Linked DNA regions of Homo sapiens. The protein of the gene in region 1 interacts with the protein of each later gene in a pairwise test. Each region holds a gene or a part of one and is shown in the gene's direction. Other genes may lie near its edges.

Region 1 (3,500 bases):
GCTGCCTGAATGAGTTGCTTGAATGTATGTACTATTTGAATAATTACCTGTTTGCCATTGCTTGCTGTTTATATTACCTGGAATGCCATCCTTTTCTTCTTGAGAGCTTTAGCACAAATCCCTCCTCAGTAAAAATAGTGGCTTAAGTTTCCTGAGTGCTTACGTCTGTGAGGCACCATGCCTTTAATTTCCACTATTGCATTGAAGCAGTGGTTATAGTTATCAGTCAAGCCTTGTACATTAAAATATACACACCCAAATATATATACACACCTTGTGACACAGGTACTGTTATCATCAACTTGCATTTGGAGGATTTGTCCAAGATCACATACCTAGTAAGTAGCAAGAGTGGGTCTCTGTCTCATGTAATTCCAGAGCCCAGGTGCTTAGTCATACTCCAGTGCCATAGCACTTATAGCTAACACTTACTAGAGGACCAGTTACATGTCAGGGACTGCTATAAGGGCTTACATATTTGATCCTTTGAACACCCTAATGAGGTAGCAACTGCAGTGATCTCTGTTGTATATATGATGAAATTGACGCTTTGAGAAGTAACTTACCCACAGTCTCATATCTGCGAAACGGGAAAGCCAGAATTAGAACCCAGGCGGTCTGCTTTTGGAATTCTACTGTAAGTCTCTTTGATAAGCTGTCAAATTGTACAGCCACAGAGGGAAAAATTTACTGTTTGTCCATCTATTTGTCATTATATAAGGGATTGGGTATAAAGAAATAAGCATTATATAGGCGTTATATAAGGACTTGGATATAAAGAAATGAAGCAAGAAAAAAAAATCTCATCTTCTCTAAACTCATAGAGCTTGCGTTGTAGTACCACTGTCTATACCTGATCCTCAAGGGCACAGATGTGGTATTTAGTTGTTCTGTATTAGTAGTACCTTGCGCGAGTAAGTATTTAATGTGTTGGTGATGATAATTCATTGGCTTTTCTGTTAACTCCTGCCAAGGAGACTTTGCCCTGATTTAGGCTTATTAATAATTTTTTTTTCCCAGACAACTCGTAGCCAGGCGTTCATTCTCTTCCCGCTCATCTTTCCTCTTCCCATTTGAATCATGTTTTTGTTGACATCTAGAGTATTTTATCCCATTATGTACTATGGAGCATTCTTCTATTTGTAGGGATAGGATTACCACCCTGGAGAATTAATTTTTTTCTTTTTTCCTCAGTACTATACTGGCAATTGCTGGAGAAGATTTTGCAATTGTTGCTTCTGATACTCGATTGAGTGAAGGGTTTTCAATTCATACGCGGGATAGCCCCAAATGTTACAAATTGTAAGTAAATATTTCTAAAGACATTTCACAATGCCTTTGTAATGATTTGATGTTGTGAGAGTTTCTACTTCTAAATGATTTGTTTCATGAGTTTTTAAGTTGCTGTTGGGAGCATTTTTATTAGAAAACCATTTTCTAAGTTAATGTTTCCTAATAATTTAATGTGCAGTCTTAATAATATTTGCTGTATTCAGGGTACCAAAAGTGCTTTCGGTAACCTAAATGTGTTCACCCCAGCATTTTACCATGAAAAATTTCCTGCTGTGTCTTAACATGGTGGAAGGCCAGAGAAAGAAAGAAGAGCAAGCGAACCCACTGCTGTGATAATGTCCATTCATGAAAGCTGAGCCCTAGGACCTAAACACCTGGTCCCAACTCCCAGTACCATCACAATGGCAATTAAATTTCAACATGAGTTTTGAAGGGAATATTCAAACCACAGCACCATTAATCCATTAAATGATATTTTTTTTAAATCTGCCTCCCCACACTTTTTTTTTTTACCTGAAACATTCGTTTTAGAAATATCCTAAGCAATTATGTCCACAGCTCAGTTTTAATAGGCTAGCTATGTTTTTCCTAAAACATGAAAATAAAGCCAAAACTTAAAAAAACAAAAAGCCTGCATAAATACTGAATACATACTGCAGATTGGCAGTGGTCTGTATTTACCAGTTTTGGAAATGCTTATAAATGGTCATGAATTCCTGGGTTAATTAAACTTGAATTGTAATAGGAATGGGACTTACGAGGTTTAGGTCCTTTGGATGGACCCTCCTTGTATTGTAGGAAGTAGGTACAGAAGAAAAGATACGTTGTCTTTCCTGCTCCTAGGGATGGCCCACATCTTAAAAAGCAATGAAGTTTGTTTTCGTCTTCCCAGTTCTGTTTCTCTCCACTTGCATCTTTTGATACCCCCTTTCTGCTTTCTGTTTATGGTGCTCTTGTGTTACCTTTTTTTCTCCTCAAGGACGACACTTGTACAACTTGAAAGTAGTAAATATTAGAAATAAGATTTTAAAACAACTTTATGGATACCATCCTTGTACTAGCTTTTACTCATCTTTTAAATATTGCTTTAGTTACGTTTGCTGGTGAAGTGAGCACTTTTTTTTTTTTTTTTTGTGAAACACGTCAGATATAGAGATAGAGAATAAGAACAATGCAGCATTAACGAATGCCTGTATATATCCCTCATCCCACGTCCTGTGGGTCTGACCTAGAACTAAGCTTGCCTCTTCCAAACCTGTTTCAGACTGTATTCTTTGCATGAAAACTCCCATTCCTTTGATGCACCTGGATATTTGGGAAAAGCATCTTGAAGTTCTAAGATTTCTGTCTTTCCCTGTTGGTATTGTCAACCAATCTTGTCAGTAAAGGCAGTAAAGCCTTATAGGGGATTGGACGTCTTCACCTTAGTGCAGTGAGGTTGATGGTAGGCATAGATCAGGTGATGTTAGTGATGACCCTAGAGGTGTCAGCTGCTCTCCTAGTAGGACAGGTATGGTTTGTGCGAGTCATTCGTAAGTTTCCAAGAGGAATTGTGTGGCCTCTGCAAAATATTGTTTAGGTTTCTTTATAGATTCATATCAAGATCTAGGAATTAATTTTTGAAATACACGGTTGAATTTGTATGTCTATACCAAATTTTAATCCTCTCCATACAGATGGACATTTAGGTTTTGTTTTGTTTTGGGGTGCTATTTAAATGAGTACTCACTGGTGAGTCTAGAGCATCCCTTTGCATACTTGGATAAGTATATTAACAAGATGGATTTCTAGCAATAGAATTGGTGAGAGTGGTGTGTATTTAAATTTTTAATAAATACCACCAAATTGCCCATCTAACAGGTTAATCAGTTTATACTGTTTCCACAACCTCACCAGCATTTAGTTAGTTAGGCATTTTTAGCCAGTATAATTGGTTGAAATAGTCTCTTTTTGAGATTTGGATTTCTGAGTAACATAGAGGCTCTTATGTTTATGGTGACTTAATGTCTCTTTTTTCTGTGACTTGTCTGTTCATAGAAGTTACCCATCTTTCCTTTATGTTATTGCTTTCCTTATTTGTAAGAATTTTTATAGAATTAAAATTAGACTTTGGGGGTAGATGCTACTAATATATTTTCTTAGGGTTTTAAAAAGCTATTCTTAAATTTCCCTGTAGAATTTTATGTAGTCAAATTTATGAAATTTTT
Region 2 (3,500 bases), on another chromosome or scaffold:
CAGGCAGATCACCTGAGGTCGGGAGTTTGAGACCAGCCTGGCCAACATGGAGAAACCACATCTCTACTAAAAATACAAAATTAGCCAGGCGTGGTGGTGCATGTCTATAATCCCATCTACTCGGGAGGCTGAGGCAGGAGAATAACTTGAATCCAGGAGGCGGAGGTTGCAGTGAGCTGAGATGGTACCATTACACTCCAGTATGGGCAACAAGAGTGAAACTCCATCCAAAAAATAAATAAATAAATACGTGATAAAAATAGTTTGCTCTGAGTTTTTGCCTTTCTGGAATTTAATAGCAAGAAAAATATGTTCCCTACCCTCTCAGCCCCCACTCTACCTCCCTGTGGCTTGTTAAGCCTTCCTTCTGCCTCCTGCATCAACTTCCTGATGGAGAGTGTATGAATGCAAAAGCTCCTCCCTTAGCACTTACCTAGTGCTTCACTCTCTGGGCTCCTGCCACTGGGTCCCAGCTAAGAGAGTTTGATTTTAAAATCCAGAGTTTATGGCTTTTTAAAAATAACCTCTCACCTATTTATCAAAAGCTCCTTCTAAATAATATTTACAACAACAACAATGATAATGGCTACTATCTAGTATTTCCCATTTTCCAGACACTGTGCTGGGCTCTTTCCAAACACTGTTTTAATCTTTACAACAACCCTACAGGATAGATATTATCTATACCCATTCTCAGCTGCAGCTGAGTTTCAGGGAGGTTGAAGTGACTTGCTCAAGGTCATAAAGCTTATTAATTGGTGGAGAAATAGTTCAAACCCAACCCTATTTGAGTCCTAAGCCATGTAGCCCTCTCCCACCCTTTCTCCCAACTATATCAAATTGCTTTGCTTTTAAAAGGTGACAGTAATTTGTTTTTTCTCTTTTTCATAGTGTAATTCTGTCCCTAGAGGTCAAATTGCATCTGCTGCATAGCTACATGAATGTGAAGTGGATCCCACTGTCCTCTGATGCACAGGTGAAGACTTCTCCCACATCTACCCTGGTGTGTCTTCATTTCATTTTCAGTGACAGAACAAGGAGATCTGGGATGGTTTCCTTCTGAATCTATTCTGAGTGGTGGCTTACAATTCAAGGTTAGAAGTAACTAGAAGATGTCAGATAAGTTCCAAAGACAATTTTTCCTGTTTTTATTGTATTTTTTATTTTTATTTTTGAGATGGAGTCTTGTTCTGTCACCCAGGCTGGAGTGCAATGGCACAATCTTGGCTCATTGCAACCTCCGCCTCCTGGGTTCAAGCGATTCTCCTGCCTCAGCCTCCTGAGTAGCTGGTATTACAGGCATGCGCCACCACGCCCAGCTAATTTTTGTATTTTTAGTAGAGGACAGGTTTCACCATGTTGGCCAGGCTGGTCTCGAATGCCTGACCTCAGATGATCTGCCCGCCTCAGCCTCCCACAGTGCTGGGATTACAAGTGTGAGCCACCGCGCCTGGCCTTTCCTGTCCTTTTTTTTTTTTTTTTTTTCAGAGGAAGTCTTGCTCTGTCAGCCAGGCTGAAATGCAGTGGCACAATCTTGGCTCACAGCAACCTCCACTTCCCAGGTTCAAGTGATTCTCCTGCATCAGCCTCACGAGTAGCTGGGATTACAGACGTGCGCCACCACACCCGGCTGATTTTTGTATTTTTAGTAGAGACGGAGTTTCACCACGTTGGCCAGGCTAGTCTCGAACTCCTGACCTCAGGTGATCCACCCACCTTGGCCTCCCAAAGTTCTGGGATTACAGGCATGAGCCACCACACCCAGCCCTTTCCTGCTTTTTAAAAACCGTTAGTCTCCTGTTTTCCACATCTCCTCTCCAGCCAGTCTCTGTTATCTGATACTAAAACATATATATATTTTTTGAGACGGAATCTTGCTCTTGATGCCCAGGCTGGAGTGCAATGACACGATCTCAGCTCACTGCAACCTCCACCTCTTGGGTTCAAGCGATTCTCCTGCCTCAGCCTCCCGAGTAGCTGAGATTGCAGGTGCCCGCCACCATGTCCAGCTAATTTTTCTATTTTTAGTAGAGATGGGGTTTCGCCATGTTGGCCAGGCTGGTCTTGTGATCCGCCTGCCTTGGCCCCCGAAAGTGCTGGGATTACAGGCGTGAGCCACCGCGCCTGACCTAAAACATATTATTATTATTATTATTATTTTTCTTTGAGATGGAGTTTCACTCTTTTTGCCCAGGCTGGAGTGCAATGGTGCGATCTCAGCTTATTGCAACCTCCGCCTCCTGGGTTCAAGCGATTCTCCTGCCTCAGCCTCCTGAGTAGCTGGGATTACAGACATGCACCACCACGTCCGGCTAATTTTGTATTTTTAGTAGAGATGGGGTTTCTCCATGTTGGTCAGGCTGGTCTGGAACTCCCGACCTCAGGTGATCCACCCACCTCGGCCTCCCAAAGTGCTGGGATTACAGGCATGAGCCACCGTGCCTGGCTTAACATATTCTTTAAGAAAGGTTTTCTGGACTGTTTGTTGAACTTGAGATGATCATTATTTCGTCCAAAGTCTTCTGTAGATAGACCTCTGTTTTGGGCACTAGGAGACGGAGTAGCTTAAAGAGCTCCTAATTCAGTGGGCTCTGAGTTAGAACAGGAGCACAGGAGTAGGGTCAAATTGATAACTCCAATGCAGAATGTATAAAAGTTGAGGGGATGCAAAGTGGCTAGACTTGGTTAGTTTTGATTAGTCAAGACTTTCTTGAGATTAGTTTCGAGCAGAATTTGGCATAGAGAAATGTATAATAAAGAACATTCTAATGTCTGGGCCTCTCACCCGGAAGCCACGTATCATATGGTTGCTCATTGTTCTAAATGAACAGTAAGGCTTTATTCTACTATCTCCTTATTACAGAAGGGAGTCAGATTGCAGTGGGGGAGAAAGCTGACTGACTGGAACCCAGGAAGGACAGTGCCATCCTGGGTGACCCTTCCCTCATCATGACAGAAGCCCTTCTCTGGAGCAAGGCAGTCACTAGGCAATCACTCAGAGGACGGAGTTCATAGGTGTCCATCCTTTTCTACCTGGCTAATTTCTATAGCCATGGCTGCAGGGAGCTCCCTGAGCCAGATGGATGGGCTAGAGGTCCCTGGGGGATTCCCCCACCCCAGGCTGCTGGGATAACTGTCAACAGTGTTCTTGTCTCTTCCAGGCTCCTCTGGCCCAGCCTGAGTCCCCCACCGCCTCAGCTGGAGATGAGCCCCGGTCCACTCCTGAGTCTGGAGACTCAGACAAGGAGTCAGTTGGCAGCAGTTCCACCAGCAACGAGGGCGGCCGGCGGAAGGAGAAGTCAAAGCGAGATCGGGAGAAGGACAAGAAGAGAGCAGATTCTGTGGCTAACAAACTGGGCAGCTTTGGCAAAACCTTGGGCAGCAAGCTCAAGAAGAACATGGGGGGCCTGATGCACAGCAAGGGTTCAAAGCCTGGAGGGGTGGGGACAGGGTTGGGAGGAAGCAGCGGCACTGAGACACTGGAGAAGAAGAAGAAAAAC

Evidence for each region. Proteins that work in one complex are often made in the same cells at the same time.
Region 2: the proteins of PSMB1 (region 1) and OTUD7B interact in binary tests that used the Homo sapiens proteins (3 or more experiments, as listed by UniProt).

Annotation. Positions count from the first base shown.
Region 1 is NC_000006.12:170,546,808-170,550,307, reverse strand, and holds part of PSMB1 (proteasome subunit beta type-1), read left to right. Parts: intron 1-1,194; coding exon 1,195-1,302; intron 1,303-3,500. UniProt on the Homo sapiens protein: Non-catalytic component of the 20S core proteasome complex involved in the proteolytic degradation of most intracellular proteins. This complex plays numerous essential roles within the cell by associating with different regulatory particles.
Region 2 is NC_000001.11:149,944,727-149,948,226, reverse strand, and holds part of OTUD7B (OTU domain-containing protein 7B), read left to right. Parts: intron 1-891; coding exon 892-976; coding exon of another isoform or gene 977-1,003; intron 1,004-3,161; coding exon 3,162-3,500. UniProt on the Homo sapiens protein: Negative regulator of the non-canonical NF-kappa-B pathway that acts by mediating deubiquitination of TRAF3, an inhibitor of the NF-kappa-B pathway, thereby acting as a negative regulator of B-cell responses.